Linked DNA regions of Homo sapiens: region 2 is linked to region 1. Evidence: fine-mapped expression QTL. A gene starts in region 1. The other region holds a variant in brackets. All regions are shown on one strand. Distances are between the middles of the regions. Region 1 holds the start of TNK2 (tyrosine kinase non receptor 2). Region 2 overlaps TNK2 (tyrosine kinase non receptor 2).

The links. PIP is the estimated chance that this variant, and not a neighbour inherited with it, causes the effect.
Region 2: its variant is fine-mapped to the expression of TNK2 in testis (GTEx, PIP 0.99). The same link has a PIP of 0.9 or more in fibroblasts.

What each region holds. Positions count from the first base shown.
Region 1 is chr3:195,904,706-195,913,339 of GRCh38, forward strand. It overlaps TNK2 (tyrosine kinase non receptor 2), which reads right to left and starts at 3,846. Exons shown (of 16, transcript NM_001382273.1): 1 at 3,780-3,846. TNK2-AS1 (TNK2 antisense RNA 1) reads left to right here and starts at 3,371. Exons shown (of 2, transcript NR_145450.1): 1 at 3,371-4,073; 2 at 5,160-8,559. It overlaps LOC124906253 (keratinocyte proline-rich protein-like), which reads right to left. Exons shown (of 4, transcript NR_197446.1): 4 at 8,375-8,634. RefSeq lists enhancers at 2,060-2,109, 2,160-2,389, 5,380-5,429 and silencers at 4,060-4,309, 4,360-4,549, 4,600-5,249.
Region 2 is chr3:195,868,435-195,876,434 of GRCh38, forward strand. It overlaps TNK2 (tyrosine kinase non receptor 2), which reads right to left. Exons shown (of 16, transcript NM_001382273.1): 10 at 3,842-4,036; 11 at 1,680-1,771; 12 at 1,063-1,107; 13 at 1-275. Among named protein-coding and RNA genes, the nearest start is that of MIR6829, 10 kb to the right of the region's middle. The variant T/C (reference allele first, on the strand shown) is at 3,780.

The sequences.
Region 1 (8,634 bases):
TAAAAATAAAAAACCAATACTACCAGGAAAAACCAGTATCATTTACAATAGCATAAAAATAGGTACTATTTAAGGATATGTTCAATAAAAGATGGAAAAGACTGATATACCAAAAACTACAAAACACTGCTGAGAGATAGTAAACAAAACCTAGACAAATACAGAGATATACACTGTTCATGGTCAGAAGGCTCAATACTGCTAACCGATCAATTCTCCCCAAATTGATCATAATCCCAATCAAAATCCCAGCAGGCTTTTTTGTAGAAATTGACTAACTAATTCTAAAATGTATATGGAAGTGCAAAGAACCCAGAATAGCTAAAGCAATTTTGAAAAGACAAAACCAAGTTTGAGATCTTACCCTGATTTCAAGACTTACTATAGTTTATAAACCCACAGTAATCAAGATAGTGTGATACTGGGATAAAGACAGACAAATAGATCAATGGAACAAAACAGAATCCAGAATTAGACACACACAAACAATTGATTTTTTTCTTTTTCTTTTTGAGATGGAGTCTCACACTGTCGCCCGGGCTGGAATGCAGTGGCGCAATCTTGGCTCACTGCAACCTCCGCCTCCCGGGTTCATGCGATTCTCCTGACTCAGCCTCCTGAGTAGCTGGGATTACAGGTGCCCGCCACCACGCCTGGCTAATTTTTTGTATTTTTAGTAGAGACAGGGTTCCACTACGTTCACCAGCTTGGCCTTGAACTCCTGACCTCATGATCCGCCCGCCTCAGCCTCCCAAAGCACTGGGATTAGAGGAGTGAGCCACCGTGCCCAGCCAGCAATTGATTTTTGACAAAGATTCAAAGGCAATTCAGTGGAGAGATACATCTTTTTAATAAATGGTGCTACTAGATCAATTAGATCTCTACATGCAAAAAACTGGACATTGATTCATACCTTGCACCACGTAACAAAAATTAACCCCAAACGAATCCTAGATCTCAATGTAAAGCCCAAAACTATAAAATGTCTACAAGAAAATACAGGGGAAAACTGTTGGGACTTTGGGTCAGGCAAAGATTTCTTGGACATGACACCAAAAATGCAATCCACAAAGTAACAAATTAGTAAATTAATCAAAATTTACAACTTCTCTTCAAAAACACAGCATTTTGCACTACTGATCATGAGAATTTTTTAGAAGACATTGTTAAGAGGATCAAAATACAAAGCCACAAGCTGGAAAAAAGATTTGTAAATCACATACCTGATAAAAGGCTTATATCCAGAATATATCAAGAACTCTTCAGAACTCAACACGAAAAACCCTACACAATTAAAAATGGGCAAACGATCTGAACAGACACAGCACCAAAGACATACGTATGGCAAATGAGCACATGAGAAGATGCCCGACAACATGAGTCATTAAGGAAATACAAATTAAAATTGTAATGAGATACCACTACAGACATGAGAGTGTCTAAAATTAGAGACTGACCACATCGAGATGTGGACATATCAAAGACATGGACAAACCAGAACTCTCATACACAGTGGATGAGTATATAAAATGTACAACCACTTTGGAAAACAGTCTGGCAGTTTCTTAAAGGTTAAATGTGTACCTACCACATGACCCAGCCATTCCGGTCCTAGGGATTTACCTAAGATAAATAAAAGTGTACATCCACACAAAGACTAACAAACACGTTCACAGCAGCTTTCTCTGAAAACCCATCAACAGGTCAATGGATAAACAGACTTTGGCACACGTGTACAATGACTGTTGATACGCGCAACCACCTGGACAAACTCCAAAATACTTCTGTTGAATGAAAGACGCGATTCCGTTTACAGTAAATGCTGCAAACTCAGACACAGTGACAGAAAGTAGACCAGCCTGTTACCTGGGGTAGGGGATGGCAGAGGAGCGGGGGATGGAGGGGTTCCACAAGAAAACTTCTGGGGACAGGGGAATAAGGGGGATGTTCACTATCTTGAAGGTGGGGGTGGTTTCACGGGTATATACACAGGCCACAACTTATTAAATTGTGTGTTTTAAATATGCTCAGTTTACCATATGTCATTATATCTCAATAAAACTGTTATTTAAAACAAACAAAAAGAAACACTGCATCTTCTAGACGAAGCACAAGGTGGGGGCTAATCCCGGGCTCAGGGGCCAGAGGGAACAGTCTGACCCTTCCTCCCTAACATCTGCCGGGGCTCCGGGGAGGTGGGCACCAGGCTCCAAAGGGCCTGAGGTTTCTTTACTCACGACACTGCAGGGGAAGTCCTGGCCCACCGCAGACACCAAGAAACTGAAACCTAAAGACATTATGTTGCCCAAGGAAGTTACACAGCTTGTAAGCGATATAACCAGATCAAAAGCAATCTGTGTGATGCCAAGGCCTTTCTCCCATTCATCTACCACAAGTTCAAAAACGCCGACCTGAAATAAGTAGGTGAAGATTGTGTGTATGTGTTTAAAACAGACCGTTCTCTCCACTGAAGCCAGACAGTGAGAGCCACTCTGGCCATTCCAGAAGCGTCAGGCACCGTGGGCACAGCAGCTGAACTTCCGGTGCATGAGTGTTTGGGTGGCAGCGCGACAGGCATGGGATGAAGCTGACAGGCGGGTTTGAGTTTGTCTGAGGAGCGGGCTAACCGGCTCCTCCAGCAGCTGCTACCTCCAGCACCACTCCCTCTGCCCCCAGAGGAGAGCACCCAGTCTGGTTCGGGACAGGGGTCTGGGTCCATCTGACTCACAGCCACACCTCGGGCTGGGGCAGAGGAGGGTCCTCTAGCTAAGGCCCTGGGCAAGCAGCAACCCTGCACCCATCCCCACCCAGGGGCAGGGGAAGCAAGCACCTGACAGTGCCAGGTAAGAGGCGAACAGCTCTAGGAGAGTAAGGCCCACAAGCAGCCCGCCAAGCCCCCTGGGGGCACGAGGCGGAATGAGTAGGTCTGGCACTCAGGCCACGAGGGAGTCAACAAGCCAAATACAGCCCCCACCCTTGGCCCCTACAAGCCCTACCTCTAGACTGGGCTGGGAGCTCCTGTCCTGACAGGTGCAGAGCCCATGATACCACAGCGGCCCATCTGCAAACCTCCCCAGGGTGGGGCCACAGAGGCAGCCCAGAGCCCTGGGGTGCAAGTGCACCCTCCTCTCCCGCCCCTCTAACGCTGGGTCGTCCCACCCAGAGACGAGAGGGCTCACCAGTTGCTCTCCCTCCTTCCGCCCACTAATCATCCTTGGCTCTGGGCCCTCAGGGTAAATCAGCTGTGACAGGACGGCGTGGCAGAAGCGGGCCAGGCTCGTGCCGTACCCAAGCCACTAGCTGTCACACTCATCTCAGCTCACGTGACCAACAGGGTTACAAGATAAGGTTCTGTTAATCCCACGCTGCCCTCTTCCCTTCTGTGGGACGTGTTTTGAGGACTTGTGTGTTGACTGCACCATGCAGAGCATATAGCATGGAGGCACCCCTACTGCCATCGGGGGGCAGGTGGAGGGGGGACCGTCCTGCAGCTCCTCCCTGGGGCTACCCCTCTCTTCCCTCTGCACAGACCTGGCAGCCACCCAGACGTCCCGCCTGCTGCCTAGACTCTAAGAAGATGCCCTATCACTCCAATTACCATACACAGTACTGGCGGGGGAGAGGTCCTGCCTTGCCGCTGAAAACTGCACTGCTTCCTCCCTCCAGGGATGAAAGGCCAAAAGAACGAGGGCAGTGTGGAGTCTACGCTCTCGCCAGGGACCTGCAGCCTCTCACTTCCAAGCACACCAACTCCAGCTAACAGGACTGGGCTTCCTTACCTGCCGCCTTCCGCTGCCTCCCCGCAGACACAGCTTCAGCGACGCCCAGGCTGAGACGGCAGAAGAGGTTCCCGCCGGCCGCGGCCTGCCCTCAGGCAGTGGCTCCCAGAGCTCAGCGGTTCCCCGCACTCTTCTGCGCCCGACTCCCCATGCCCCTACATCCTGCGTCCCCTTCAGCCCCGGAGGTACCGTGGGGCCCGGGCCTGCCAGTCACCACCTCCTCCTCCGCCGGCGCCTCCGGGTCCTGAGCCCCTCGCCGGGTCCCTCTCCCTCCTGGGGCTCCTTCCCGTTCAGGTAGGTTTCCTGGACAGCCCGCACCACCTGTCCCTCCTGCACCCCGGGCAGCCAATTCGCCTCTTGCACCCCCAGGCGCCCCTCCCCCGCAGGCCCCCGGGGCCCCACCGGCCGGGCCCTCCCCACCAGCTCGGGGCGGCTTCGGGGCGCCGGGGCCGCTCCCAGGACCACCGCCTCCCGCCCGACGCTCTCCCACTGCCGCTCCCCCAGTTCGCCGGAACTTTCCGGCCCCTCCCTGCGCTCGCGGGGGCCTTCCCCGGACTCGGACGCCGGTTCGGGCTGCTGCAGCAGCCTCCGCGGGCTCCCCTCCCCGCGCTCCTGCACCCCGGCCCGGGCCTCGCCGCGCTCCTGCACTGCGGGGCTGCCTCCGCCCTTCTCCTGGTGCTGCCCGCGGGGCCCCAGCCCCTCCTCCTGCGCCACAGGCCAGCCCGCCGAGCCCGTCCACCACGGCGGGCGCCCCCAGCCCGCGCCGTCCGGCGGCCCCCACACCACCCCCCGGCTGGGCTCGTGGCCGCGGCCGCCGCGCTCCTGCAGCCCCGGGCCCACCCCGCCCTCCTCCTGCACCGCCGGGCCCACCCCGCCCCGCTCCTCCACGCCGAGCTTCAGCCCGCGGAGCTGCTGCGGGCCCCAGCTGAGAACCCCTACGCGCTGCGGCTGCTGCTCCGGCAGCGCAGGGCTCAGCCCGCCGCGCTCCTCCTGCGCGACCCGCCGGGGGCCCCCGACCGGCTCGGCCCAGCGCACTCGCTTGCCCCCCAGAGGCCGCGCGCTCCCACCCCTCCAGATGGTGCTGCCCTCGGCGCCCGCTCACACCGCCCGCCCGCCCCGGCCCTCCCCTCCCGCCCCGGGCCGCCCCCGAGTCCCGCGCCCGCCTCCCCGCCCTCGCCTCCGGGCGTCAACGTCGGCCCGCCGGGCGCCCGCCCCGCGCCGGCCCCCGCAGGTGAGCGCCCGCCCGCCGTCCCTCCTGCCGAGCGCCCCGAGCCCGCCTGCGCCTGCGCCTGCGCCGCCCCGGGGTGGGGGGTGGGGGGGAGTCGGCCCGCCCTCTTAAAGGGCCCGGCCTCATCGCTCCTCCCCCGGCTCCTCCCCCAGCCTCCGGGGCCCTACCCCGCTCTCCCCGACTCCCCCGGGCCCGGCCTGCGCCTTCCTGCGGTGCCGAGGAGCGGTGGCGCCCTGGGTGAAGAAGTCCCGCCGAGTCGAGGGGCGCAATGGAGGAGCGCCGGAACAGGTCTCTCATTCCGAGTAGCTACCGTTGCACTGTGCGAGTGTAAAAGTCACTTCCACCCGGTCTCAGTTGTTCCAACCTCAGTTGAAGTGAGGAGGTTGGACTGGAAGGTTTCTGGGGTCACTCCAGTGAGGCTGGGGTTCTAGTCCCAATCTCACCGTGGCACCCCAAAGGCCCAGAAACCCGGACCATCACCTCTCTTTCCCCGGGGCCAACGGAGCACTCCTGAAGGAGGGAGGGTTTGTCTCAGGCCTGACGATTCCTGATGAGGACTTGGGCAGAAACAGCCCCAGGCAAGCGGACCTTCATTCCTGCACTTGAGCCGTCTCCTCCCTGCCCCCACCCCAGAAGGAGAAAACCCAGCGCTCGGATTCCCAGCGGCGGGGCAGCCTGCAGGCCCTGTTCCCAGCCCACAGACCCATGTCCCAGCCCAAACGGAGGCAGCCCTGGGCAGCGGGCGCGTGGAGCCCAAGGGCTCAGGGCCACTCAGCCCTTGTTACTGTCCCTCATCTAGAAAATGGATGTAATAACAAAACAGTTCACGGTAGGTGGCAAGATCAGACACATCGGAAACTGTGTAGGGCTGGCTCTTTCTGCGCTCACACTGTCCAGCAATGGGCCCCAGGGACTTGGCCAGAGCGCAGTAGGGCAATGAGAAAGGGGTGGCTTCTGGAAACCTACACGAGGCCCAGTCTGGGTGGATTTGGGTGGCGGTCCCTTGCCTGCGAGGTGGGCAGGGCAACTTTCTACTAAATTATCTAACACTGCCAGTAATGGCAGCCCTTCCCCAGGGAGCCAGGAGGCTGGGCCAGGACCACCCCCCTGTCGCCTGGCTTCAGGAAAGAAAGTGGGGAAGACAACAGATTTGGGAGAAGGAAACTGAGGAGGTTTTCTCCCAGTCTCCCTCACGCTGCCTCAGTCATGGCCATTGCTAAGACTCACAGAGCCCAACTGTGCAAGGCCCTGCACTTCGCATTCTTCTCATCCAACCCCATGACAACCCAAGGAGACACATAATATCCCCATTTTACACGTGGCAGAACTGAGGTTCTACATGGCCAAGTGACTTGTTCAGTGCCATACAGCTGGTAGTAGTGAAGCCAGGATTCAAATCCAGCTTTCCGACTCTAAAGTCTAAGGCACAGACCGAGTGTGGTGACTCATGCCTGTAATCACAGCACTTTGGAGGCTGAGGAGGGCAAATCATTTGAGCTCCCAAGTTCAGGACCAGCCTGGGCAACACGGCAAAACCCTGTCTCTACAAAAAAAATAGAAAAATTAGCAGAGCATGGTGGCACGCACCTGTAATCCCAGCTACTCGGGAGGCCGAGGGGGGAGGATCGCTTGAGCCTGGGAGGTGGAGGTTGCACTGAGTAGAGACCACACCACTGCACTCCTGCCTGGGCAATAGAGCCAGACCTTGCCTCAAAAAAAAAAAAAATCTGAGGCACAAAAAAGCAACGCCAAATCCAGGGGCCCTGCTTCAGGAAGCATCAGGACTAACTAGATTTTATTGGTCAATAGATGCAAACAACTGATTTAGAGCAAACTTCCCCTCCAGTAAATCAAGCTCCAAATCAAACAAAGCTAGAGGTCAAAGCGCCTCCACGCTGGTTGGTCCTGCTCCTAGGGCAGCACAGCCCCCCATTTCCCCAGCCCCCCATCTCTCCAGTTTCCCTCAAGAAGCCAGAGCCATGCCCCATATGCACCTCTAGTGTAGGATTATCTGGAGCTTTAGGTTCAAAGGAAAGAGTGAGGTCTCCTGCTCCCTTCCTCCCTCCCACCCTGTTCCTCACCAACTCCTGGACGGTCCCTGCCATGCGGTTGAGAACTGGGGCTATGCTGGGATGTGTCCGTGACACTGATCATGGTGGCCAGAGAGACACCGAGGGAGACTGCTCTGCCACTAGGGAGCTGACATGAGGAAGGAGCCCCAGACTAAAAACATAAGTCTCAGGAGATTTGGGAGGTGGCCACAGGGATAACCCCAACCCTCTAATTAACGTGCCTGAGCCAGTCTCCTCCTACATCTGGAACTTTAGGAGAGCTGCCCACAGCAGAATGACTCGGCAAGGAGAAGGGCTTGTCGGGTCTAGCTGGGAGTGGAGGTGGGCCAGGCTGCCAGAGGGAGGCTTTGGGTGGTGCCCTTAAGAGTCTCCTTCATGAGCTGTTTTGCACTGTGAGGTAAGCAAGAGGGCAAGGAAGGCCATTGCTGGGGAATGGGCCGCCTGGCTCACACCTGCAGGCAGCTGCTAAGCCAAGAGTGGGTGGGTGCTGCTGAGGGATTGGGCTTCTAGTTTGTTTGTTTTTATTTTTTTATTTTTTTGAGATGGAGTTTCGTGCTTGTTGCCCAGGCTGGAGTGCAGTGGTGCAATCTCGGCTCACCGCAACCTCTGCCTCCCGGGTTCAAGCGATTCTCCGGCCTCAGCCTCCCTAATAGTTGGGATTACAGGCACCCGCCACCACGCCCAGCTAATTTTTTGTATTTTTAGTAGAGACGGGGTTTCGTCCTGTTACCCAGGCTGGTTTTGAACTCCTGGCCTCAAGCAATCCACTCATCTCGGCCTCCCAAAGTGCCAGGATTATAGGCCTGAGCCACTGCGTACAGCTTGTTTTTAAATAAAGCAGTTTTTAAAACTACTGTTGCAACCTTTTAGAGGGAGGTAAACTGAATATGGTGGATTTTGAATGACTATTTTTTTGTTTTATGAAAGAGGATAATAATAGAATAGAAAATATGAGAATGTTTGGCCGGGTGCGGTGGCTCACACCTGTAATCCCAGCAGTTTGGGAGGCCGAGGCAGGTGGATCACCTGAGGTCAGGAGTTCGAGACCAGCCTGACCAACATGACGAAACCCCGTCTCTACTAAAAATACAAAATTAGCCGGGCATGATGGTGCACGCCTGTAATCTCAGCTACTTGGGAGGCTGAGACAGGACAATCGCTTGAACCTGGGAGGCGGAGGTTGCAGGGAGCTGAGATCACGCCACTGCATTCCAGACTGGGCGACAGAGCAAGACTCTGTCTCTCTCAAAAAAAAAAAAAGAAAGAAAGAAAGAAAGAAAGAAAATATCACAATGTAATTTTTGAACTTTTTATTGACGTACAGCATACCTCCAGAGAAGTGCTGAAAGCTTGCATTCTTACAGGTAATACACCCAGCACCCAGATCAAGAAATGGAACATAACCAGCACCCCAGAACCCTACCCTAAAAATGTAATTTAAAAAAAAAGATTTTAATAAATATCTTTTAGCGTGCCCTTTATATACATGGTTTACTTTTAACTTTCTGATCCCCTTGCCCTCCTCCTAGAATAGAAACCTCCCAACAACCGGGGC
Region 2 (8,000 bases), 37 kb before region 1:
CTGAGGCGGGGTCTCGTCCAGCAGGGAGCAGGCGTCCATGGCCAGCTGCGCCAGGGAGGGCGCGCAGGGCCGTAGGGCCGGGACCACGGGCTCCTCACCGAAGTCGATGAGCGTGACCTCAGCCCCGCTGCCTCGGCTGGCCTTGGTGCCCGGCACCCGCGCCGAGGGCTTCGCCAGCCACAGCCCTCGGGGCAGGCCTGGCTTCCGCAGGCCCAGCCTCTTGAAGTCGCTGGACAAGGGGTCTTGGTCCTCGCTCACAGGGTCATAGGTTGGTTCTGTGATGGAAAGGGAGAGCCCAACAGGAAGGCAGTCAGGCAGGGTCTGGGACACGAGGGGAGGTGGCACGTGGGAGAGAAAGCCAAGTGTCCCCCAGCAACCCTCCACTCCCAACTCCCCCCGAGGTCTGAGGTCAGCCACCGGCGGCCAGGTTCTCAGCGCACCTCCGACCACTCCATCAGGAGGGCGGAACCTGCTCTGCCCGGCAGCCCCATGTGGGCCGGTGAGCCCCGCCTCGCTCCGTCTAAGCTGCAGCAAGCAACACTGGCTCCTGCCTGACGCTGCCTCCACCAGCACAAGACCCCGGCGGCCCTGCTCCTGCGCCCTGGCGAGTTAGTGAGCCCTCATCCCCGCCCCTGTCACGGCACACCATTAGTGCAGGCACGGAGCCGCCTCCTGCCATCAGGGGCTATAAGGACTATCCTTGGAGAGGACAGTACTCCTGACCAACGGCCACAAAGCCCAGACAGCGCCTGCAGGTCTGGGAGGCAGCGAGGCCAAGGCAGAAGCCAGGGCCACACTCGTGCTCCAGAAGCTCAGACAGGTCTGGGAGGGAGTGAGGCCGAGGCGGAAGCCAGGGCCACACTCGTGAGCAGAAGCCCAGGCTCCGGGGGGCGGGCTCGAGGGGGGGCAGGCATGCTAGGCCAGGGCAGCCGCGGAAGCTCACAGCACACACCCACCCACCTCCCCTCCGGCCCAGCCGCCCAGGCTCTGTACCTTCCAGGAGAGGAGTGAGAGAGAGGGGGCGGGGGCGGGGGCCAAGGCATCGGAAGCAGCCCCACTTACTCTGAGTGAAGAAGGCAGGCTGAGGTGGGCGAGGTGGAGGCTCCCCTGCAAGAAAGGCCATGCGGACAGGGGGAGAGAGACGGAGCAGGACAGAGGACAAAGGAGGGAGACGGCCGGACGAGAGGGCAGAGTGTAGAGAGACGAAGGGAGAGAAGTGAATGGGGGCGAGTGAATGTACAAGCCCCCAGCAAACGGGAGGCCGCAGGCGGCAGGATGAGGAACACGGCGGTCCAGTATGATAGGCAGAGGACCGGGAGATGGAGGAGGCCCCAGGCAGAGCCGGAGCCGTGGGGTGGTTTTGGCTTGGGACAGGAGAGCAGGATTAGGGGGAAGTGAGGAAAGCCAGGATCTGAGCTCGGCCGTGGAAGGAGGGAGGAGGGACGCCGGGGCGGACGGGCCTGCTGCAGACCCAGCCCGAGGAGGCCCACCTCGGCGGATACAGCTGCCTGTCTTCCACCCCACGCCCAGCCGGAGCCAGGGACACAGCTGTCCCGCCTGCTGCCCTGACCCCACTGTCCCCAAAAACAGAACAGCAGCCTTAGGGTGGCCTGTGAAGACAGTGCCCCTTCCTGAGTAGCCGATGAGTTAGGGACACCAGGGAGCAGAGGGGCTCTTACTTTTCACCCCTCCTAGATGCTGGGGGGGCCGGGAGGTGCTCAGTTCCACGCTCAGGAGGTCGGGGGGGTCCATGGGGTTTCCCAGATACAGTCTGTGGGGGAGAGAGCTGGGTCAAGAGAGCAGGGGAAGCGTGTGGAGGGGTGGCAGAATCTCATCAGAGCCCCTTCGTCCTGGAGGAAACCGGGTGTAGTCTTGGGTCTGAAGCACAGGCCTCCCGCCTCCCAGTCCACAGAACCTGACCGCACGTCTCAGCTGGGGGGTGTCCTGGAGAGAAGGCAGAGAAAGGACACCTGACCCCAGGATGGAAAGCCTAGGACCTCAGGGACTCCAACTACACCCTACAAGGGCAGAGGTGGTCCTCCACAACCCCCCAGGCCCCCAGCCCACACCAGGCAGCGGCCAGAGGGCAGACACTCCTGTCCCGCAGGCCACGATGGAGGGCCTAAGAACGGGGCATCCCAGCTATGGTGCCCAGCCAGGGTGGGCAGGAGGCACCCTTCTGCCACATGGCCAGGAGGTGCGGGAGAGGCTGGGCCACCTGTCCTGCTCCGGATCCACCCTCCGTCCCTGCACCAACTGTCAGTATCTGAGACTTAGTCACTGGGGCTGATTAAAGCCTGGAGGAATGGGGCTGGGCTGGCCACAGCATGCCAGGAGTGGGGCAGAGGGCACCAGCCTCTCCTGGAGGTGTCTGCAGTCTTTCACCCCAACTCTCAGGCCCTTGCTGGGTTCTTTTTAGGCAAAACACATGGGCTGAGCCCTGTGAGCTTGGGGTTCCAGTGTGTGTGGGCCCGCTGTGTGGGTTCTGGTGTGTGGGGGCCCGCTGTGTGGGTTCTGGTGTGGGGGGACTCGCTGTGTGGGGTTCTGGTGTGTGGGGGCCCGCTGTGTGGGTTCTGGTGTGTGGGGGCCCGCTGTGTGGGGTTCTGGTGTGTGGGGCCCGGTGGGTGAAGGCCCCTGCTTTCCACGCCTCTCAGGGCAGACCAGAGTATCAGAAGTCAGCAGGAGAAGGGCTGCAGAGGCCAGGGGCCTGGAATCCCCCTGCGGCCAGCAGAGAGGCTTGGAGGCCTGGCGCAAGAAGCTTCGGGGGGTGGGGGGTGGCATCCCGGAAGTGACTGATTCTGCGTGTCCTTCCCAGATGCCCCTCGGTGGCCTTATCCTCTTACATAGGAGACAGGGCCTCTCCCAGGTATGGAGTGAGCTCCGTAGAGTACTGTGTGGTGGGGAGGCGGAGCTGCCACCTAACGTTCCCTCTGCAGTCCCCAAGGTCCCCAGTCCCACTCTGGTTCTGGAAAGCAGGCTCACTCCCATGTGGACCTGCATACATCCCCAGGGCCTGAGCCAGCAGGTTCACGTCTCCAGGACTCTGGCACCACCAGCAGGAGAAGGAAAACCACTGCTCGTGTGCAGGGGTCACAGGGTCACAGGGTCACAGGGGGCCACAGGGGGGTCATGGGAGAAGCTCTCCTCCTCAGCAGCTCCCACCGGGTTCCTCCCAAGTTCATTTTCCTAAGGCCCGAGTACCAAGAGGGGTTACAGCTGTGGCTCCGGGGACCTTTCCACCAAACAGGAGTCCATCCTCAGAAGCTCCTGACCCTACTTTCATCTACAGTGAGTGGGAAAGCTTCTCTCAGGACCCCTGCATCTGAGCAGCAAGTGCTAATTCAGAGTGCATTTACAGCCTTCCCCTTATTGGGGGGGTGAACCTGTTTCACAGATGAAGTGTCTCAGAGTTAGGAGATCGGCCCCCCAAAGCTTGAAAATGGCAGGGACAGCATTCCCCTGGAGAACGCTCCCCGGAGAACCCTCCCCTGGAGAACCCTCCCCTGGAGAACATTCCCCTGGAGAACCCTCCCCTGGAGAACCCTCCCCTGGAGAACCCTCCCCTGGAGAACATTCCCCTGGAGAACCCTCCCCTGGAGAACCCTCCCCTGGAGAACACTCCCCTGGAGAACATTCCCCTGGAGAACCCCCACCAGGCTGGGCTTCCTAGGGTTCCACAGCTTCCCGAGAGTAAGGCCAGGGTGAGGAGGGGAGAGTGGCGGGTCGGGGGCTGAAGCCCGGGCGAAAGGGTGAAGAGCAGATTCCGCCCACGCGTGCCG[T/C]GCTGAGGGCCCTGGAGTCCCGAGCGGGGCCAGGTCAGCATCCATCCCCGCCCAGTACTCACTCGTCAATCCTGTCCGGGAAGCCCCAGCAGTGGCGGGGGTCACTGTCGCCATGCCCTGTGTGGATGAAGCTGTTCTGCAGGGGCTGGCTGATGTCCTGGGCCGACAGGCCGGCCACGGAGGTCACCACGTTGCGAGGGAAGGGCCCCACACACAGCGTCCGTGTGTTCTGGCCACGCCACCAGTAGTTCTCGGCCCTGCGCGACAGAGATGGCACGGTGAACGCCAGGCGTGGCGGGGCAGCCCCGGCACTGGGACCCTCCTCACACCCTGGCCACTGTGGCAGAAGGGGGATGGAGCTCAGGCCTCAGGACCAGGCTGTGTGCCACCGGCCCTCCTCCCCAACAGCCCCCGTGACCCACCATGCCCCGTACAGGCCTGTTTGCACACGGCCTTACCCACAACTCTCTAGGTGGGTCAGGCAGCTTTCCCTATGGTTTGCAAATAAGGAGGCACGCTGGAAGCTGCTGCAGCAGGCAACATGACCTGTCCACGGTTACCAGAAAGATCCCAGCAGACCTGGGACCCAACGCCAGCTTTCAGGTCTGTGGGGCCAGCGCCCCGCCCACACCTCCTCCTCACCCCTCAGTTCCCTGGCAAGGCCGGGGCCCCAGTCCTCTTCTGGCCACTTGATTTCACTCCTCGGCTGGGTTCCAGGAGTTCTGAGAGGTGCGGGGGTGCCGGGGGACACCTAGGGCCTTGCACTAGGCTGGGGGCCAGGCCTCCAGCTACAACCTGCCTCCCGAATGCAGACGCGGGAGAGTCTAGGAGCACTCGGGCAACTCAGTCCCTCCCTCCACCGCTTCACCTGCTTCCGGAGCTTTCCACCACCTCCCGGAAGGCCTGCGGGAGCCTCCCCGTCTCCTCAGGAGGGGCTCTACCTGTGTCCAAAAGGGAACTCAGCTCTCCCACAGTGACCAGACAGTAGGGCTGCCAGTCCCCCTCTGACCTCAGACACGAAACCTCTGCTGATGTGGCCTAAGCCGGGGCCTGGGCAGGGGCAGGGGCAGGGGCAGGGGCAGGCAGGCCAGGAAGCACAGGGCTCCCGCAAGACACTCCTGACTCCCGAAGGCTCTCACAGGTTGTGAGGCTCCCGCGTCTGCTGCTGGACTTGTCATACGTGATGCCGTGAGCAGAGTCTGGGCAGGCGGGGGCGGTGAGAGCCCCGTGGGCAGTGTCTGGGCAGGCGGGGGCGGTGAGAGCCCCGTGGGCAGTGTCTGGGCAGGCGGGGGCGGTGACAGCCCCGTGGGCAGAGTCTGGGCACGCGGGGGCGGTGACAGCCCAGAGCTGCTAGGGTGGACACGTGTGGCACCACACTGCACGCCCTCCCCACCAACCCCCACTTCTCCTGTCCCAGGGCCAAAGCGTGAAGAAGGGCTCCTCTGAAACCCAGCCAGGCCGGGGAGAGAGGACGGAGGAGGTGGCGACGCCTGGGCACCCAGACCCACAGCCTTGTAAGGTGACGAGGCCTGGCTGGAGCGGGGTGACTCCGGAACAGCCCATCCCAGAGACCAAAGTCAAACCCGAGAGCACCACGGTCGGCGGGGAGGCGGGGGGCGCGGGGCGCGGGGAGACGGGGCTGTGCTCCCCCTGCCCAGCCTCCTCATACACAGGGCCACTGGCCTGGCCCCACCACACACAGCCACCCTGTGATTCCCACCCTGCCTGCAGGGAGGGAAGGAAGGAGAGAGGACAGTACCCCGAGACGAGACGAGTCCCATCTGAAAAATAGCAGGGCCACTCGAAGGAGCAGAGCCCCGGCTCCCCAGCACGCACACAGCCTCCCACGGCGGCCCGTAGAGGAGGAACCCCGGCACCGGCTGGGCTGCGGCTCTCCCGCTACACCCACGGGCTCCCCGGTGGCTGCCGCGGGCCAGACGCCGGACTCTGCTCTCCACACCTCTTCAGAGGCGCTCAGTAACTGGGTGAGAATGCCGCTGAGGCCGAGACCTTGCTCAGAGCAGCGTGACTCGTGCCCAAGGCAGGTCACTCCGTCTGGCCTCTCCCTTCCGCCAACACTGCCCAGCTCCAGGCACAGAAGCCTCCTTTGGGACCCACTTCTGAGAGGGAAAGGAGACATCAAGCCCACCTCCCTTAGTGCAGGTATGGCCGAGGCAAGAGCCCCCATGGCTGCTGGGAGTCCTGACACCACTCGAGAAAACATGCTTGCTCCTGGGGGAAGGAGAGTAAGAGTGCGGAGGACGTGTGCAAGAAGCTCCCCTCGGGATGGCGCCCACGCACACTCCGAGGCACAAGAAACTCCCCCTCGGGATGGCGCCCACGCACGCTCCGAGGCACAAGAAGCTCCCCCTCGGGATGGCGCCCACGCACACTCCGAGGCACAAGAAGCTCCCCTCGGGATGGCGCCCACGCACACTCCGAGGCACAAGAAGCTCCCCTCGGGATGGCGCCCACGCACGCTCCGAGGCACAAGAAACTCTCCCTCGGGATGGCGCCCACGCACGCTCCGAGGCACAGGAAGCTCCCCTCGGGATGGCGCCCACGCACGCTCCGAGGCACAGGAAGCTCCCCTCGGGATGGCGCCCACGCACACTCCGAGGCACAAGAAGCTCCCCTCGGGATGGCGCCCACGCACGCTCCGAGGCACAAGAAACTCCCCCTCGGGATGGCGCCCACGCACGCTCCGAGGCACAAGAAGCTCCCCTCGGGATGGCGCCCACGCACACTCCGAGGCACAAGAAGCTCCCCTCGGGATGGCGCCCACGCACGCTCCGAGGCACAAGAAACTCCCCCTCGGGATGGCGCCCACGCACGCTCGGAGGCACAGGAAGCTCCCCCTCGGGATGGCGCCCACGCACACTCCGAGGCACAAGAAGCTCCCCTCGGGATGGCGCCCACGCACACTCCGAGGCACAAGAAGCTCCCCTCGGGATGGCGCCCACGCACGCTCCGAGGCACAAGAAACTCCCCCTCGGGATGGCGCCCACGCACGCTCCGAGGCACAGGAAGCTCCCCTCGGGATGGCGCCCACGCACGCTCCGAGGCACACGAAGCTCCCCTCGGGATGGCGCCCACGCACGCTCCGAGGCACAAGAAACTCCCCCTCGGGATGGCGCCCACGCACGCTCCGAGGCACAAGAAACTCCCCCTCGGGATGGCGCCCACGCACGCTCCGAGGCACAAGAAGCTCCCCCTCGGGATGGCGCCCACGCACGCTCGGAGGCACAGGAAGCTCCCCCTCGGGATGGCGCCCACGCACACTCCAAGGCAGCTTCATCCCAAGGCTCCAGTGGGACTTCCAAGAGGACCGTGTCACTTCTCGCAGCCCACACGCACCCGTGTGAGGCTCAGTGTGGCCGAGGCACCAGCAGTCCAGAGGGGACTGAGGCCAGCCCTTCCTTCCAGGCCCGCCCTGTCCGCGCCCTCTCTCTCCCGCCATGAACAGGCCGGAGTCCCCGTGGCCATGGGAGGGCCAGGGCTGCTACCCGGCCGTGACTGAAGCAGGGGCGGATGAGGACTTCCTGGGGGAGCAGGAAAAGGGCCCAACACCTCCGCATGAACCTTCTACCTCCTGCTGCCCCCGGGCCTCTGGTCAACATCTCTGGGGTAGACAAGATGGAAAACAGAGGCCGGTGCTGAGAACTGCCTAAGGCTGCCCCAGCTCTGGAAATCTCAGCACCACGTTCCCGTCCGGGCCGAAGGTAGTCCAGAAATGGCTCAACTAATGCCGGACATTCTGTTCAAAACGCCCGCCCGCTCTTCTCCCTAGGGGTCCCAGGCGCCCAGGCCTGGAGGGATAACCCGGATGCCTGGCTCCCACCCACCACAGGAAGCCGAGGCTCCAGGGCCAGACCAGGCCAAGGACCCGCAATGGATTCCAACACCCGCTCTGTATGCGGAACAAAAGTGCTGCCAGCCACCCCTTCCTCCAAACGAGCCCCTGGGAAAGACCAGTCATCATTTGTGTCTCCAAATCTAGACACAGCACGAAACATCTAGGTGTCTCCCCTCTGCCCACAGCCTGGTACCCTGAGAAGGACTGAGCCTAGACTCAGTCAGAGCTGCGGCAGGTGGCCTCCCAGACTCCGCACCAGGAAACAAATACTGGACACAGCTTCGCAAGTGGGAAGCCACGGCGAAGAGAAGGCCAGGCTAGGAGGGAACTCCAAACACAGACCCACAGATGCACACCCAGGCCCA